Linked DNA regions of Homo sapiens: region 2 is linked to region 1. The links come from fine-mapping of genetic effects on gene expression. Tissue or cell type: aorta. Region 1 holds a variant in brackets; the other region holds the start of a gene. All regions are shown on one strand. Distances are from middle to middle.

Region 1 (8,000 bases):
ACACTAGGCATAAATGGGTTAAAATCTGTAAACTTGCTCAGGCCTCTCCCAGCCTAAAATAACAAATCCTCTCTCAACCCTGCATTTCCCTCTAACTCACCATATTTTCTCTTCTTCTCTCACATAAACTTCTCAAAAGTAGAGAGTACATTTGCAGCCTCATCTCCTCTTCCTCATCCTTCCTCAATTACTTTCAGTATAGCTCCCACCCCAACTGCTGCACTGAAATGGCTCTTGCTAGAGTCACCAAATGGATCCTAATTGCCTCGCCGAAGTCAAAGTATATTTCCAGACACATCTTACTAAACTTGCTCCTGTGCCTGACATGATCTTCTTGTAACTCCCCTCCCCATAGGCTTCCATGGCTTCATATACCCTCCTAGTTCTCCTTCTCTCTGAACGTTCCTTTATAATCTCCTTTATGAGATTTCTTCCTCTTCTAATCCCCCTTAAACAGCTTTTACAAATTACCTGAAATGAAAAAATTATAAGCTTCAGAGTTAGGTCTGACTCAAATTCCAACTCCACCTAGCACCAATTATTGTGACCTTAGACATGTAACTTAAAAACCTCTCTTACTCTGTTTTCTCATCAATAAAATGAAAATGCAGATACCTACTTGGGAGTACTATTATGGAAATGAGATCATACAGTATATGTGAAGAGTCATTCTCTCTTTTTTTCCTCCCCCTTACTTCCATATTCACCTGGCACCATCGTTCTGCCTACTCGCTCCTCAAATTCATCCCTCATCTCCAGCCCCACTACCAATGACCTCACTTTCTGGTTAAAGACTGGGTAGAATTTACCAGGCAGGAGAACAGAATATGGGAAATGCAAGGAAAGGAATCATCATGCACAAAAGCACAAGGTTTTGAAAGACTCAGCTGATGCTTTTTTTTAAAGGCAAATCTGATCATATTACTCCCTTGCCTAAAATTCTTCGGCTTCTCAGCATGATGTAAAAAGCCTTTCAGCATCTGGTCCCTACTTTGCATCCCTCCCTTGTATCTTCTCTTTATTCTAGCCCTACCAAACAACTTCTAATTCATGTGGGAAAGAATCAACATTAATCTGCAATGTGAATCCACAGTCCTAAAGTTTTCTACCCTATTCTGAAGTCTTTCTGAATAGGGAAACCAATTACATAGGAACAGACTTAACAGAAACAAGCTATAATATGGAGATTATAAAACAGAGTATCTTTAGTAACATGACAGGCTGGCCAAAAGCAAAGAATTAAATCTATGAGTGTAAGACTTTACAAATACATTTATAAATATAGAAGTATCAATTATTATAACTAGATTATAATCAATACTCCCCAGATAATCTGCAGCTACTAATTACCCAAGATTAACATAAAACTTACTTTCCAGGTTGAACTGCAAAGACTCTTCACTCGCCTCAGTCTCAGGACTAACCAGTTTCATTCTTAGACATAATTTATCATCCACGTCTGGGGCAGCCCCAGAATCCCCTTTTCCACTCCCAAGTATGGGATCATGGGTCTCCACCATGCTTTCAGACATGACATCACTGGTTGCTATGGTGCTTTCTGGATAGTTGCTAATACCTGAAAGAAGTGAGGCAGGGAGGAAGAAAAAAAGAACACTAAAATACAAACACAAAAAACAGCAATTCAAGGTCATCAATTTGCCTGTTTGGCTCCACAGCTCTGCAGGATTGAAGGAGGTTCCTAGGATAGATCCCTGTCATAAGTATCAACAACTACGAACTAGTATTGACACCTGGTCTTAAGAGGAGCAACAGGATTCAGTTCCACTTCTGCATCTGGACAAAGGATGCTGCATGAGCCCTCAGCCAACCCACATCTGCCAGCATCAGGCATAGGTAGCAGGAGACTCCAGACGGCATGATTGTTACCTCCCAGCACTGACTAGAGAAAACAAATAGGTTAATGTAGAAGACTACTGGCTGCTTCAGGGAAGGAGGATCTAAGTTTTCTTGCCCTGTCAAGCAGCAGACTGACTAATTAGCCAAGGTACTGAATAAATAGTACTTCTACCTTACTTCCTGTTCCATCCTTATAAAACATCTCTACATCACTACTTAGCACTCAGATTCTACTGCCTTGCAAGTAATAAGATAAAATTCTTTTAAGTATTCTCTTTCTTTCTTACTTCCCTCCACCCTTTCTTTCCTTCCTCTCTTTACCCCTCATCTCCTAGTAGTAAAATCACAGAACCAGACTTCATAACCCTATTTTCCCTAAAACAAAAATCAACCTTACCAGCCAGACCCAACTCCTCAGATCTAAAATATCACTTGTGTAGAGAATGATATCTCAGAAATTCTGCCTTAAATATCATTACTTTTTATTCACTCACCAATAGGAGTACTGTGTCTCTTGGGCTCCAATTTTAGGTGCCCAATAAGAGGTGGGGTTGCACCAGTCAATGGTGGGATGATATCACCTTCTTTAGGCAAAGTGAAATGAAATGGGGTTTCTGAAAAAAAAAAAAAAAAGAAAAAAGAAAGAAAGAAAAAATGATTTAAAAAAAACAGAAGTATAAAATAAGCAAAAATAATAAGAACTGCAAGAAATATTTCAATCACTCTTTTCCTTTGCTCCCAAATTCTGTCTCATTGCCACCACCCTCACCAGGCCTCCTGACTAACTCCCTTCTATCGTCTCTGCTCTCTTCACAGCCAACAACTATAGTACTGACACAAAGTAGACAACCAGAGGACAGGCAAATTGAGAAAGCCCGAAGTCTGCAAGACCTGAGGAACCTGGAGTCAAATGGAACACAAACATTTGATCTCCAAGACAGTACATCAGGGGATATTTAGCAATACAAATTTGGACAGTTTCAAATCAGAACAACATAATTTTGTGCAATGCTAACCTAAGGAGTTTGTTTATAAGCCTTAATAGTCTGTAGGATTCTCCAAAGCAAAGTTTGAAGTTAATACTTATAATGTACAATCTAATCAAAGAGATGACAGAGGATCTCACGGGTTAAAGGACTTCAAGATACTGACTGGTTCTAGCATAGAAATCCAAGGGTTTCATGGTTCAGCAGTACGGACCAGCATTCACTCTAGGCCTAAGTGTAATGTTCATACCTAAATCTCTGCACAACAGTAAATCCCTCATATATAAGCATCACCAGTGTACACATTTTAGTTATTAAATTATTATAAATAGAAAATATTTGTCAAGACATAAAGCTACTTTCTACCTAGGTCTCAGTTCCAAATTTTTGCTAATCAGAACTAGAAAACCGTCAAAAAATCACATTTTCTAATTTCCTAATTTATCTCTTTTTATAAAATGATACATTTGGGAGAAAATAAGAATTGCGCCAGACTGCCCTCTTAAAACTAATATATGAAAATTTCTTCTTACTTTCCTGGGATGGCTCAAAATAACTATAATCTGGCATACTTGGACACTACTACTTATGAAAGTAGTTTGCTTCTTTCATCTTTTTCCACTCCTATCTTTAATAGCAAGCACCGTGATAATTTTTTCCTTTAAAACAAAACAAAACAAAAAAATTTTTTTTTTTTTTTGAGACGGAGTCTGGCTCTGTCGCCCAGGCTGGAGTGCAGTAGCTCGATCTCGGCTCACTGCCAGCTCCGCCTCCCGGGTTCATGCCATTCTCCTGCCTCAGCCTCCCAAGTAGCTGGGACTACAGGCGCCCTCCATCACGCCCAGCTAATTTTTTGTATTTTTAGTAGAGATGGGGTTTCAAGAGAAAATGAATTAGTAATCTGAGGAGATAAAGAGAGAAAAAGAAATGGTCTTTAGAAATAAAGGATTAAAGTACATATGCTCAGCTAAAGAAACTGTAAAGAGGGGCCAGGTACCATGGCTCATGCCTGTAATCCCAACACTTTGGGAGACGAAGGCGGATGGATCACTTGAGGTCAGAAGTTCGAGACCAGCCTGGCCAAAATAATGAAACCCTGTCTCCACTAAAAATACAAAAATTAGCTGGGTGTAGTGGCAGGTGCCTGTAATCCCAGCTACTCAGGAGGCTGAGGCAGGAGAACTGCTTGAACCTGGGAGGCAGAGGTTGCAGTAAGCCAAGATGGTGCCACCGCACTACAGCCTGGATGACAGAGCGAGACCGTGCCTCAAAAAAACAAAACAAAACAAAACAAAAACAAACCTGTAAACAGTATGGATGAAGAATCTCAACATTACATCTAACTGACAGACATCCACCATAGTTACAGAAAAGAGAAATGGGTCAGGTAGATAAGCATTCATTCTGTGGTAGCCCCTTATAAAGCAAGTTGTTCTAATAAAGAACTTAGAAGAGATACAGAAACTTAAAAAACACCTTGCAAAGCCTCATATATTCCAGACTTCTGAAAATGTGCATGAAATCTTTAAGCAGACCTTTCTATGTGACATA[C/T]TATATTACGCAAATGCAATATGCAAGCATTAATCGCTGAAAATATATCCCTGTAACAAGGTTTCCTTTGCACAGTATTACATAAAACTTATGGAAAGTAATTTTAGCACCATTTATCTAACTGCATTACTATAACCTAATGGAAAATTCAGACTTTTACAGGCCCTAGGGACAGCACTGCCACTACTCTCCTCAGGTCTCCAATGCCTCATTCCTGGATTATTACCATAGCCTATCAATCACTTCCTCTGCCTAAAGTCTCCCACTCTCCCTAACCCCCATTCTTTCTGCACACTTTCTGCAGCCTTCCTAGAAAACATGGCTTTGTTAGCTCCTGGTCAAAAAACTTCAAGGTTTTCACTAGAAGACAAATTCCCAACTCTATAGTCAGCATTCAACTAACTAGTAGCAGCCTATATCTCCAGTTTTTCTTTAATTATTCACGTTCATAAAGCTTCTATTCAATGTCCTCCAAAGGTTTCCCATTTCTATGCTTTTGTTCCCTCATCTGGAAAACACCACACATCTACTCAAACTATTGCCAAATCCTTAAAAATACATTTGCTGGTATATTTTATCCTTTTAAACTTACGGAATTTTCCACATATTCCATTATTTCTCTAACATTTAGCAATCCTACATTCTTTAAATTATCAAATCCCTTCTTGTTTTTCCAGATAATCATGGGCTATCATGTTGTAGGTCAGCATACCAAACAATAATGAAGGATATGAATGAGGAAACAAAAGGAAACTCAATACTAATTTTGAAACCACCTGAGTGGGAGTATGTGTCCTTTAAGGACTTTAGAGAATAACTCCAAAGCAATATTTAAAACTCTAAATGTTAAGAAGGTCTCTCCTAACTTTCTGTTATAGTTTTAAACCCATTTTTCTTCTTTGTTCTTAAAAGAACTGGTTACCCCTAAGAATTTATTAAAAGCCATCTAGTTAAAAATGTAAGAATTTATATATCCGGCGATATCATGCATGAAGTCTACCCCAAAAGTCTGCCTCTGATATTAATAGCCAATTAAGATGGCATTCTATCAAGTAAGCAAATAAAGGTTATAGCTAGAGCCTAAAACACATCTAGATCCCCTGATCATTATTAACTATTACAGACTATTACTTATGGATTTAAAGACTTACTGAACTCCTTACAGTTTTTCACATCATCAACCCACCAAATATTTGTTCTGTGTTGAACAAGATTGGGCTTCCAAGTACCATCTTGCTTTTTTACAGGTTTAACAGGAGCTCTCCATAGACAGATACTTGAAGAGGTCTCCAAACTGTTAACAGTGACAAGTTATCTATAAATGGAGACATTTAAAGTAATTCTCTCTCTCCCTCTCTGTACTCACTCTCTCTTTTCCTTCCAACTCCCTCTCTCCCCACACCCTCCCCACTCAGAATCTCTACTTTGTATTGTTTGAATGTTTTTCAAAATTAAGCATGCATTATTTATTTACTTATTTATTTGAGACAGGGTCTCGCCCTGTTGCGCAGGCTAAAGTGCAGTGGTGCAATCTCAGCTTACTACAACCTCCGCCTCCCGAGTTCAAGTGATTCTCAAGCCTCAGCCTCCTAAGTAACTGGAATTACGCGTGCACGCCACCATGCCTGGCCAAGCATGTATCTTTTTTTAAAATCAATAAATCTATTAACAACAAAAAAGTGCTCTTCTAATAGTAGATGAACAAATGCAAAACTCACCCAATTCACACCTTTCATTCTGTCTTTTCAGACTGAAGAACCATTACTTTTTTTCTTTTTTTTTTTAATTATTATACTTTAAGTTTTAGGGTACATGTGCACAATGTGCAGGTTAGTCACACACGTATACATGTGCCATGCTGGTGTGCTGCACCCATCAACTCGTCATTTAGCATTAGGTATATCTCTCAATGTTATCCCTCCCCCGTCCCCCCACCCCACAACAGTCCCCAGAGTGTGATGTTCCCCTTCCTGTGTCCATGTGTTCTCATTGTTCTATTCCCATCTATGAGTGAGAACATGCGGTGTTTGGTTTTTTGTCCTTGCGATAGTTTACTGAGAATGATGATTTCCAATTTCATCCATGTCCCTACAAAGGACACGAACTCATCATTTTTTATGGCTGCATAGTATTCCATGGTGTATATGTGCCACATTTTCTTAATCCAGTCTATCATTGTTGGACATTTGGGATGGTTCCAAGTCTTTGCTATTGTGAATAGTGCCGCAATAAACATACGTCTGCATGTGTTTTTATAGCAGCATGATTTATAGTCCTTTGGGTATATACCCAGTAATGGGATGGCTGGGTCAAATGGTATTTCTAGTTCTAGATCCCTGAGGAATCGCCACAGTGACTTCCACAATGGTTGAACTAGTTTACAGTCCCACCAACAGTGTAAAAGTGAAGAACCATTACTTTTTAGATTACTATCATTTAAATTTGGCCAGGCCCAGTGGCTCATACCTGTAATCCCGGCACTTTGAGAGGCCAAGGCAGGTGGATTACTTGAGGCCAGGACTTCGAGACCAGCCTGGCCAACATGGCAAAACCCTGTCTCTACTAAAAATACAAAAATTAGCCAGGCATGGTGACATGTGCCTATAATTCCAGCTACTCAGGAGGCTGAGGCACAAGAATCACTTGAACCTGGGAGGCGGAGGTTGCAGTGAGCCGAGATCATGTCACTGCACTCCAGCCTGGGCGACAGAGCAAGACTCTGTTCCAAAAAAATAAAAATAAAATTAGTCTCTCAACATTTAGCAACTAAACAACTATATTTTTAAGTACAAAATAATATTTTTCTGTTCTTTTTGCAACGCTCTTCTGAATGATTTATTTTATACAATTTTCTAAGTTAAAAACTATTGTTCTCGGCTGAGCACGGTGGCTCATACCTGTAATCCTGGCACTCTGGGAGGCCAAGGTGGGTGGATTGCCTGAATCCAAGAGTTCGAGATCAGCCTGGGCAACATGGCAAAACCCTGTCTCTACAAAAAATCAGCCAAGCATGCTGGTACACGCCTGTAGTCCCGGCTTCTCGGGGCGGGGGGCTGAAGTGGGAGGATCACCTGAGCCCGGGAGGTCAAGGCTGCAGTGAACATTGATGGTGCCACTGCACTCCAGCCTGGGCGACAGAGTGAGACCCTGGCTCAAAAACAAACAAAAAAAAAGACAAAAAGCTATTATTCTCCCTTCATGTTCTAATTTGTAGTTAAAATTATTTTTATTTAACTTCTCCTCATAAATACTATTTTCCAACCACTGTCTTCATTACTTTTTGTTGTTTGCCCAAGAACTAAAATCATGAAATAAACACGAAATCACTAGCATTTTCAATAATCTGGATATTAATGTTAATAAAATAATAAGTTTTACTACGGCAAAAAAAGCTGACTCTGCCAATTAACAATGTAAACAAGAATTCATGAAGAATACTATTAAAATAATAGAATATCTCACTGTTTTAGAAGCTTCTTTTGCATTTAATTTAAAAGTACTCCAGGCCGGGCGCGGTGGCTCACGCCTGTAATCCCAGCACTTTGGGAGGCCGAGGCGGGCGGATCACGAGGTCAGGAGATCGAGACCATCCTGGCTAACACGGTG
Region 2 (8,127 bases), 200 kb after region 1:
ATTTTGATTTGTCTATTAGATCTAGGGCAGGGGTCCCAAGCCCCAGGCTACGGACTGGTACCAGTCCATGGTCTGTTAGGAACCCGGCCATGCAGCAGGAAGTGAGTGGTGGGTGAGTGAGCATTACCGCCTGAGCTCCACCTCCTGTCAGATCAGCTGCGGCATTAGATTCTCACAGGAGGGCGAGCCCTATTGTGAACTGCATGTGCGTGACCCTTAGGAGAATCTAATGCCTGATGATCTGAGGTGGAACAGCTTCATCCTGAAACCTCCCTCCTACCCCATCCATGGAAAAACTGTCTTGCAAGAAACCAGTCCCTGATGCCAAAAAGGCTGGGGACCACTGATCTAGGAAATCCTGTATAGTTACTATTATTTACTTCATTCCAAGGCTTAGGACTATAATTCTAGCCATGCAAGGCAAATACATGGCAGCAATCATACAATAAAAGGGAATTATAAGTAAGTTAGTTCAAAATCTTCACCATTACGAGGAGGAAATAAAACACCTCAAAGTATATAGTATACTGTAGTGGGTCTGTGACATCAATTATTGTTGTATATTTAAATATCTTTGACCTGACTGCAGTAAAGGACTATTTTATTTTTTTGAGACAGGGTCTCACTTTGTCACCTAGGCTGGAGTTCCGTTGCATGATGGCTCACTGCAACCTCCGCCTCCCAGGCTCAAGCGATCCTCCCACCTCAGCCTGCTGAGTAGCTGGGACTACAGGCATGTGCCACCACACCTAGCTAACTTTTGTATTTTTTGTAGAGATGAGGTTTCTCCACATTGGCCAGGCTGGTCTCAAACTCCTGAGCTCAAGCGATCCTCCCGCCTCAGCCTCCCAAAGTGCTGGGATTACAGGCATGAACCACCATGCCTGGGCCCCAGAGATAAGCTTGTAGGGGACTTGGAGCTAGAGGCAGAGTCCTGAACTGGCTACAGGCACTGGACATTTCTGTTGAGGAAAATATCTGTGTGAAATAAACAGCCAAGAGCTTCATAACTACTCCCTTCTCTTAAAAATTCCTCCTAGGCTGGACGTGGTAACTCACGCCTGTAATCCCAGCACTTTGGGAGGCTAAGGCATGAGGATCTTTTGAGCCCAGGAGTTCAAGACCAGCCTGGGCAACATAGTGAGACCCTGTCTCTACAAAAATAAAATCAACATAATTAGCCTGGTGTAGTGGGCATGCACCTGTAGTCCAAGCTACTCAGGAGGCCGAGGTGGGAGGATCAACTGAGCCCTGGAGGTCGAGGCTGCAACAAGCCATGATCACACCACTGCACTCCAGCCTAAGCAACAAAGTGAGACTCTGTCTCTAAAACATAAAGTGGGAGACTTCCCCACAACAGTGAGAATGAAACAAGTTCTACTGTCCTTTCATCATTTCTGAGCAGTTTGAGATTATCAACAAATGAGCTCACTGATTTTGCAGACATACTTATGTTTTGAATGTATTTCATATAATTTATTATTGGTTTCAGAATCATTTCCTTTTTAAGTAATTTTTTTGGCTCAGCTAATATCTTAGTTGTACCTACCTTTCCATACTTTGTGAGCTTTCTTATTTATACTTAATCTTTCTAAATATACTTGTAAAAATGTAAATGTTAGATCGTTCACTGATAGGCACCAATATCTTTAACAGAAAAGGTTAATTCAAACAAATGTCAGGCTAAACTGACAACAGAAATAAAACTGGTCTTCCCAAGTTCAGTTCCTTGTGGATTTGTTATATTGCTACATATTACACCTAGTTTTATGTGTCTAGATGCTCTGTATCTAGTATACTCTTGAGAGCCTCCAAATATTAATATTTCTTTTTTTTTTGAGATGGGGTGCAGTGGCGTGATTTCAGCTCACTGCAACCTCGGCTTCCCACGATCAAGCGTCCTCCTGCCTCAGCCTACTGAGTAGCTGGGATTACAGGTGCCCACCACCACGCCCAGCTAATTTTTTCTATTTTTAGTACAGATGGGGTTTCAACATGTTGGCTAGGCTGGTCTTGAATTCCTGACCTCAAGTGATTCAACCACCTCGGCCTCCCAAAGTGCTGAGATTACAGGTGTGAGCTACCGTGCCCAGCGAATATTTCTAGATTTTAGCAGTTGCATAAATTCTACTCCAGGAGGCTTAATATAATTGTCCTTAATATAAATGTCACATTTCAAATGACATTCAAAAATGTAAAATGATCAATTTAGAAAAAAAAATTACTCCTACCCACTTCCTCTTTTTCTTTTTCTTTTTTTTTTTTTTGAGACAGAGTTGTACTCTGTCGCCCAGGCTGAAATGCAGTGGCACAATCTCGGCTCACTGAAACCTACGCCTCCTGGGTTTAAGCGATTCTCCTGCCTCAGCCTCCCAAGTAGCTGGGACTACAAGCGCGTGCTACCAAGCCCGGCTAATTTTTTGTATTTTTTAGTAGAGACAGGGTTTCACCATGTTGCCCAGGCTGGTCTCCAACTCCTGAGCTCCGGCAATCCACACGCCCCGGCCTCCCAAAGTGCTAGGATTACACGTGTGAGCCGGCGTGCCCGGCCTCACTTCCTCTTTCATACAAGGTCAGTTCTCACCTATTTCAACCATCAATATGATCGTATTCAAAAAGACCAGGAAGATGATGAAGTTTTTGAAGAGAGGACCTGTTGTCTCTTAAGGAAATGTACAGAGTGGAGTTCTTTCTGATTTATGCAGCTGAAATAATAAGAGCAATAACATAAGCAGTGAAAATGAGACAGTGGAGTATGGGGAGCAAAAAATAAGTCATTAGGCAGATGATCAACAGCCAGGATAAAAATGAGTGACATGAAAGGATACACTCAAGGACCCATCCGGCCCACAAAGAAAGAGGTGGCCTCTGACTGCAGCGCACATGAAGCCTGCTCAACAGCCTCTGGGCATGTGAAATCTGTTCTATACGCTGAGGCTTTATAGAGAAACGCACTAGCTGGTGTTGATCTCCCAATACAAGTTTCTTCTGGCGGGAAGGATCTACAACAAAAATTAAAAAGGGATAGTGGATAAATACAAACAAAATAGACCAGGTAGGGTTGGGGGCAGGGATACTGGTCAGGTAATGGGTTCCCCTAATGCCTTACTGCTAGTCCTTCTCTTCTCACAGCAACTAAGAATTCTGTTTGGAGTGAGAGCAAATGTATTGCTTATGACCAACACTGTCCATGCCCACAAAAGCAGCAGGCTCACTCTCAAAGTTTTAAGAGTCTTTGACAGAAACTCTTCCCAATCATCCATGGCTAGTGGCTATCCTAGGCCTAAAAGTGAAAGACGTGGATTCTATCTCTTCAGTTTTATTTACAAGCCCTTGATTTATCAAGTTTGGTAAACCAGCAACTAAACCTCCCCAGAATTTTCCACTCTTAAATGTAGAGGATGTGGATAGGAGTCTTAAATTTAAATTAGTGAAGAAATAGGCTGCTGACCAAGTAACTCCCTGATAGTGTGCCGCGGCACAGCTTGGCTCAAGCCTTGCAAATGCTCAATGAGAGAGAAAGTATCGATGAGACGTGAACGAATGGCATCAGCTCGGGGAAGCTGCATCTGCTCTTCTTGTTGGTAAGCGGCCATGTCTGCTAAGAAAATGTAAGCATCAAGTGTCATTTCATTCTTGGAGCTGCACCAAGGATTACAGGTTTTCTGTCCCCTCCTCCCCACCCTCTTTACCCTTAAGATTCCTTAATGTACCCACATCTACGAACTAGGAGCAGTTGGGAAGAACAAACATTCTACTAGGACTCAGGGTGTTTTGAAACAAAAGGGGCTAAGTGGTAAAGACATTGCACAGTCGACCAAGCGGCCAGGCATCTTCACTTTGTGATGGCATTTCTAATTAAAACTCATTAAAAACAAAACAAAACAAACAAAAACACCGCAAGAAAAAGGAGCAGCCACAAGGGCAGGGGCCCGGGGCTGGACAAAGAATCTGGGTCCCACCTGTGCCTGAGACAATCGGGCAATGAGGTGGAGTTGGGGGAGGTCTTGGCCTGCTCACGCAAGAGAAACCAAGTGCAGAGAAATTGGACAAAATGCCAAAGCCTGACATTTTGAAAATGGGTCCCGTCCCAAGTGTGTCCACTCCAACACTCCTTCGGGGGCTAGCTCCTTCTCTCCTCCATTCTCGCTTCTGGGCCTCACCTCAGCCCAGGTTCTCTTTGCCCACTCAGTCCTTATTTCACGCTTCCGCCTCCAGCTCAGGTGCCCCGAGCCTGGCTACCCCTATGCAAGACGAGCTCAGGGCCGGCTCCCAGCCTCACTGCGCCCCATTCCCCGCCCCGCTCGACCCCCAGGTTTCGGCTCACCCCGGGACCCGGCCCTAGCCCCTACCCACAGCCCAGGACCATGCGGAGCAACGCTCGCCCAGCCACTCGCCGCCTAGGCCCCGCCCCGCCCCGCTCTCCGGCCACTCAGCGGTAACCAGCTGGTCCCGCCCGCCGGACGAAGGCGACGCGCAGCCAATCAGCGGCTGCCACACAGCGGCCCGAGCCGGGTTTGGGGGTTGGGACCTCCGGCTGCAGGTCCCCTGGGCCAGACGCGCCAGCGCAGGCAGCCGGTTTGTGGTCGCGCGCCCGACCTCCGCAGTCCCAGCCGAGCCGCGACCCTTCCGGCCGTCCCCACCCCACCTCGCCGCCATGCGCCTCCGCCGCCTAGCGCTGTTCCCGGGTGTGGCGCTGCTTCTTGCCGCGGCCCGCCTCGCCGCTGCCTCCGAACTCACGGACGACAACTTCGAGAGTCGCATCTCCTACACGGGATCTGCGGGCCTCATGCTCGTCGGGTTTTTCGCCCCCTGATGACGCCACTCTGCCAAGGCGGGGGAAGAAGGGCCGGGCTGGGCCGGGGCCGGGGGCGAGGGCGCGGGGAACTGTTGGGCCTACGCAGCGCCGGCGCCCTTCATTCCTGTGGGCCCCTGCTGTGGCGGGCACATTTCTCATTCCCGGGAGCTGGAGGTGCCTCGCCGAGAGCGGTGGAGTCGGTGCTGATCGGCCCAAGGAAAACCCGAAGGCTGCGCTCACGCAGGGCCTCATCCTTATCTCGGTGCTCTTGTGGCACTTCCTATTTGCAGAGGGTTTTGCCACCCCTTCCCCCAGTTCAATATGTAGCTATATTGTTTCTGCATGAGTCAGTATTAATGTTACTCCAGTCTACAGACTAGACATCCCAAAGCCTTGTAGTGGAAGCGGACGTTTCACCAAATGCAGAAGTCCTGGATCCCTAGGGTATTTCCTTTCATCTTACCTCACGCCGCACAGCCATTGGTTTCTAGCCAAGGTCACTGAGTGGCTGCAGAATGGTCCTAAGTGCTTTCTTGAGGCAGGCAATTTGTCCGTCACATGGTGTACAGTTTCTCCCTTCAGCTGATCACTTACATCTCAGTACCGGCAGATACCTCTGTCCAAACGAAAAGAGTACCTGAACAAGAATAATTCCATCATAATCTGTCCATATTGTCCATTTTAATTAGGATTTCTTTAAAATGTCAATACTCCGAATAGGAACAGCTCCAGTCGACAGCTCCCAGCATGAGTGACGCAGAAGACGGGTGATTTCTGCATTTCCATCTGAGGTACCCGGTTCATCTCAATAGGGAGTGCCAGACAGTGGGCGCAGGTCAGTGGGTGCGCGCACTGTGCACGAGCCGAAGCAGGGCGAGGCATTGCCTCACTCGGGAAGCGCAAGGGGTCAGGGAGTTCCCTTTCCTAGTCAAAGAAAGTGGTGACAGACAGCACCTGGAAAATCGGGTCACTCCCACCCGAAAACTTCGCTTTTCCGACGGGCTTAAAAAACAGCGCACCAGGAGATTATATCCCGCACCTGGCTCGGAGGGTCCTACACCCACGGAGTCTCGCTGATTGCTAGCACAGCAGTCTGAGATCAAACTGCAAGGCGGCAGCGAGGCTGGGGGAGGGGTGCCTGCCATTGCCCAGGCTTGCTTAGGTAAACAAAGCAGCCGGGAAGCTCGAACTGGGTGGAGCCCACCACAGCTCAAGGAGGCCTGCCTGCCTCTGTAGGCTCCACCTCTGGGGGCAGGGCACAGACAAACAAAAAGACAGCAGTAACCTCTGCAGACTTAAATGTCCCTGTCTGACAGCTTTGAAGAGAGCAGTGGTTCTCCTAGCACGCAGCTGGAGATCTGAGAACGGCCAGACTGCCTCCTCAAGTGGGTCCCTGACCCCTGACCCCCAAGCAGCCTAACTGGGAGGCAACCCCCAGCAGGGGCAGACTGACACCTCACACGGCCAGGTACTCCAACAGACCTGCAGCTGAGGGTCCTGTCTGTTAGAAGGAAAACTAACAAACAGAAAGGACGTCCACACCAAAAACCCATCTGTACATCACCATCATCGAAAACCAAAAGTAGATAGAACCACAAAGATGGGGAAAAAACAGAGCAGAAAAACTGCAAACTCTAAAAAGCAGAGCACCTCTCCTCCTCCAAAGGAACACAGTTCCTCACCAGCAACGGAACAAAGCTGGACGGAGAATGACTTTGACGAGCTGAGAGAAGAAGGCTTCAGACGATCAAATTACTCTGAGCTACGGGAGGACATTCAAACCAAAGGCAAAGAAGTTGAAAACTTTGAAAAAAATTTAGAAGAATGTATAACTACAATAACCAATACAGAGAAGTGCTTAAAGGAGCTGATGGAGCTGAAAGCCAAGGCTCAAGAACTACGTGAAGAATGCAGAAGCCTCAGGAGCCGATGCAATCAACTGGAAGAAAGGGTATCAGCGATGGAAGATGAAATGAATGAAATGAAGCGAGAAGGGAAGTTTAGAGAAAAAAGAATAAAAAGAAATGAGCAAAGCCTCCAAGAAATATGGGACTATGTGAAAAGACCAAATCTACGTCTGACTGGTGTACCTGAAAGTGATGGGGAGAATGGAACCAAGTTGGAAAACACTCTACAGGATATTATCCAGGAGAACTTCCCCAATCTAGCAAGGCAGGCCAACATTCAGATTCAGGAAATACAGAGAATGCCACAAAGATACTCCTCGAGAAGAGCAACACCAAGACACATAATTGTCAGATTCACCAAAGTTGAAATGAAGGAAAAAATGTTAAGGGCAGCCAGAGAGAAAGGTGGGTTACCCTGAAAGGGAAGCCCATCAGGCTAACAGCAGATCTCTCGGCATAAACTCTACAAGCCAGAAGAGAGTGGGGGCCAATATTCAACATTCTTAAAGAAAAGAATTTTCAACCCAGAATTTCATATCCAGCCAAATTAAGCTTCATAAGTGAAGGAGAAATAAAATACTTTACAGACAAGCAAATGCTGAGAGATTTTGTCACCACCAGGCCTGCCCTAAAAGAGCTCCTGAAGGAAGCACTAAACATGGACAGGAACAAACGGTACCAGCCGCTGCAAAATCATGCCAAAATGTAAAGACCATCGAGACTAGGAAGAAACTGCATCAACTAATGAGCAAAATAACCAGCTAACATCATAATGACAGGATCAAATTCACACATAACAATATTAACTTTAAATGTAAATGGACTAAATGCTCCAATTAAAAGACACAGACTGGCAAATTGGATAAAGAGTCAAGACCCATCAGTGTGCTGTATTCAGGAAACCCATCTCACGTGCAGAGACACACATAGGCTCAAAATAAAAGGATGGAGGAAGATCTACCAAGCAAATGGAAAACAAAAAAAGGCAGGGGTTGCAATCCTAGTCTCTGATAAAACAGACTTTAAACCAACAAAGATCAAAAGAGACGAAGGCCATTACTTAATGATCAATTAAGTAATTAAGGCCTTGTTGATCAATTCAACAAGAAGAGCTAACTATCCTAAATATATATGCACCCAATACAGGAGCACCCAGATTCATAAAGCAAGTCCTGAGTGACCTACAAAGAGACTTAGACTCCCACACATTAATAATGGGAGACTTTAACACCCCACTGTCAACATTAGACAGATCAACGAGACAGAAAGTCAACAAGAATACCCAGGAATTGAACTCAGCTCTCCACCAAGCGGACCTAATAGACATCTACAGAACTCTCCACCCCAAATCAACAGAATATACGTTTTTTTCAGCACCACACCACACCTATTCCAAAATTGGCCACATAGTTGGAAGTAAAG

The links. PIP is the estimated chance that this variant, and not a neighbour inherited with it, causes the effect.
Region 2: CATSPER2 starts here. The variant in region 1 is fine-mapped to the expression of CATSPER2 in aorta (GTEx, PIP 0.98).

What each region holds. Positions count from the first base shown.
Region 1 is chr15:43,445,015-43,453,014 of GRCh38, forward strand. It overlaps TP53BP1 (tumor protein p53 binding protein 1), which reads right to left. Exons shown (of 28, transcript NM_001141980.3): 13 at 2,352-2,471; 14 at 1,373-1,576. Among named protein-coding and RNA genes, the nearest start is that of TP53BP1, 44 kb to the right of the region's middle. The variant C/T (reference allele first, on the strand shown) is at 4,395.
Region 2 is chr15:43,644,466-43,652,592 of GRCh38, forward strand. It overlaps CATSPER2 (cation channel sperm associated 2), which reads right to left and starts at 4,379. Exons shown (of 13, transcript NM_172095.4): 1 at 4,164-4,379; 2 at 3,452-3,598; 3 at 2,829-3,002; 4 at 2,585-2,653. The coding sequence starts at 3,596. It also overlaps the pseudogene PPIP5K1P1-CATSPER2 and the pseudogene PDIA3P2.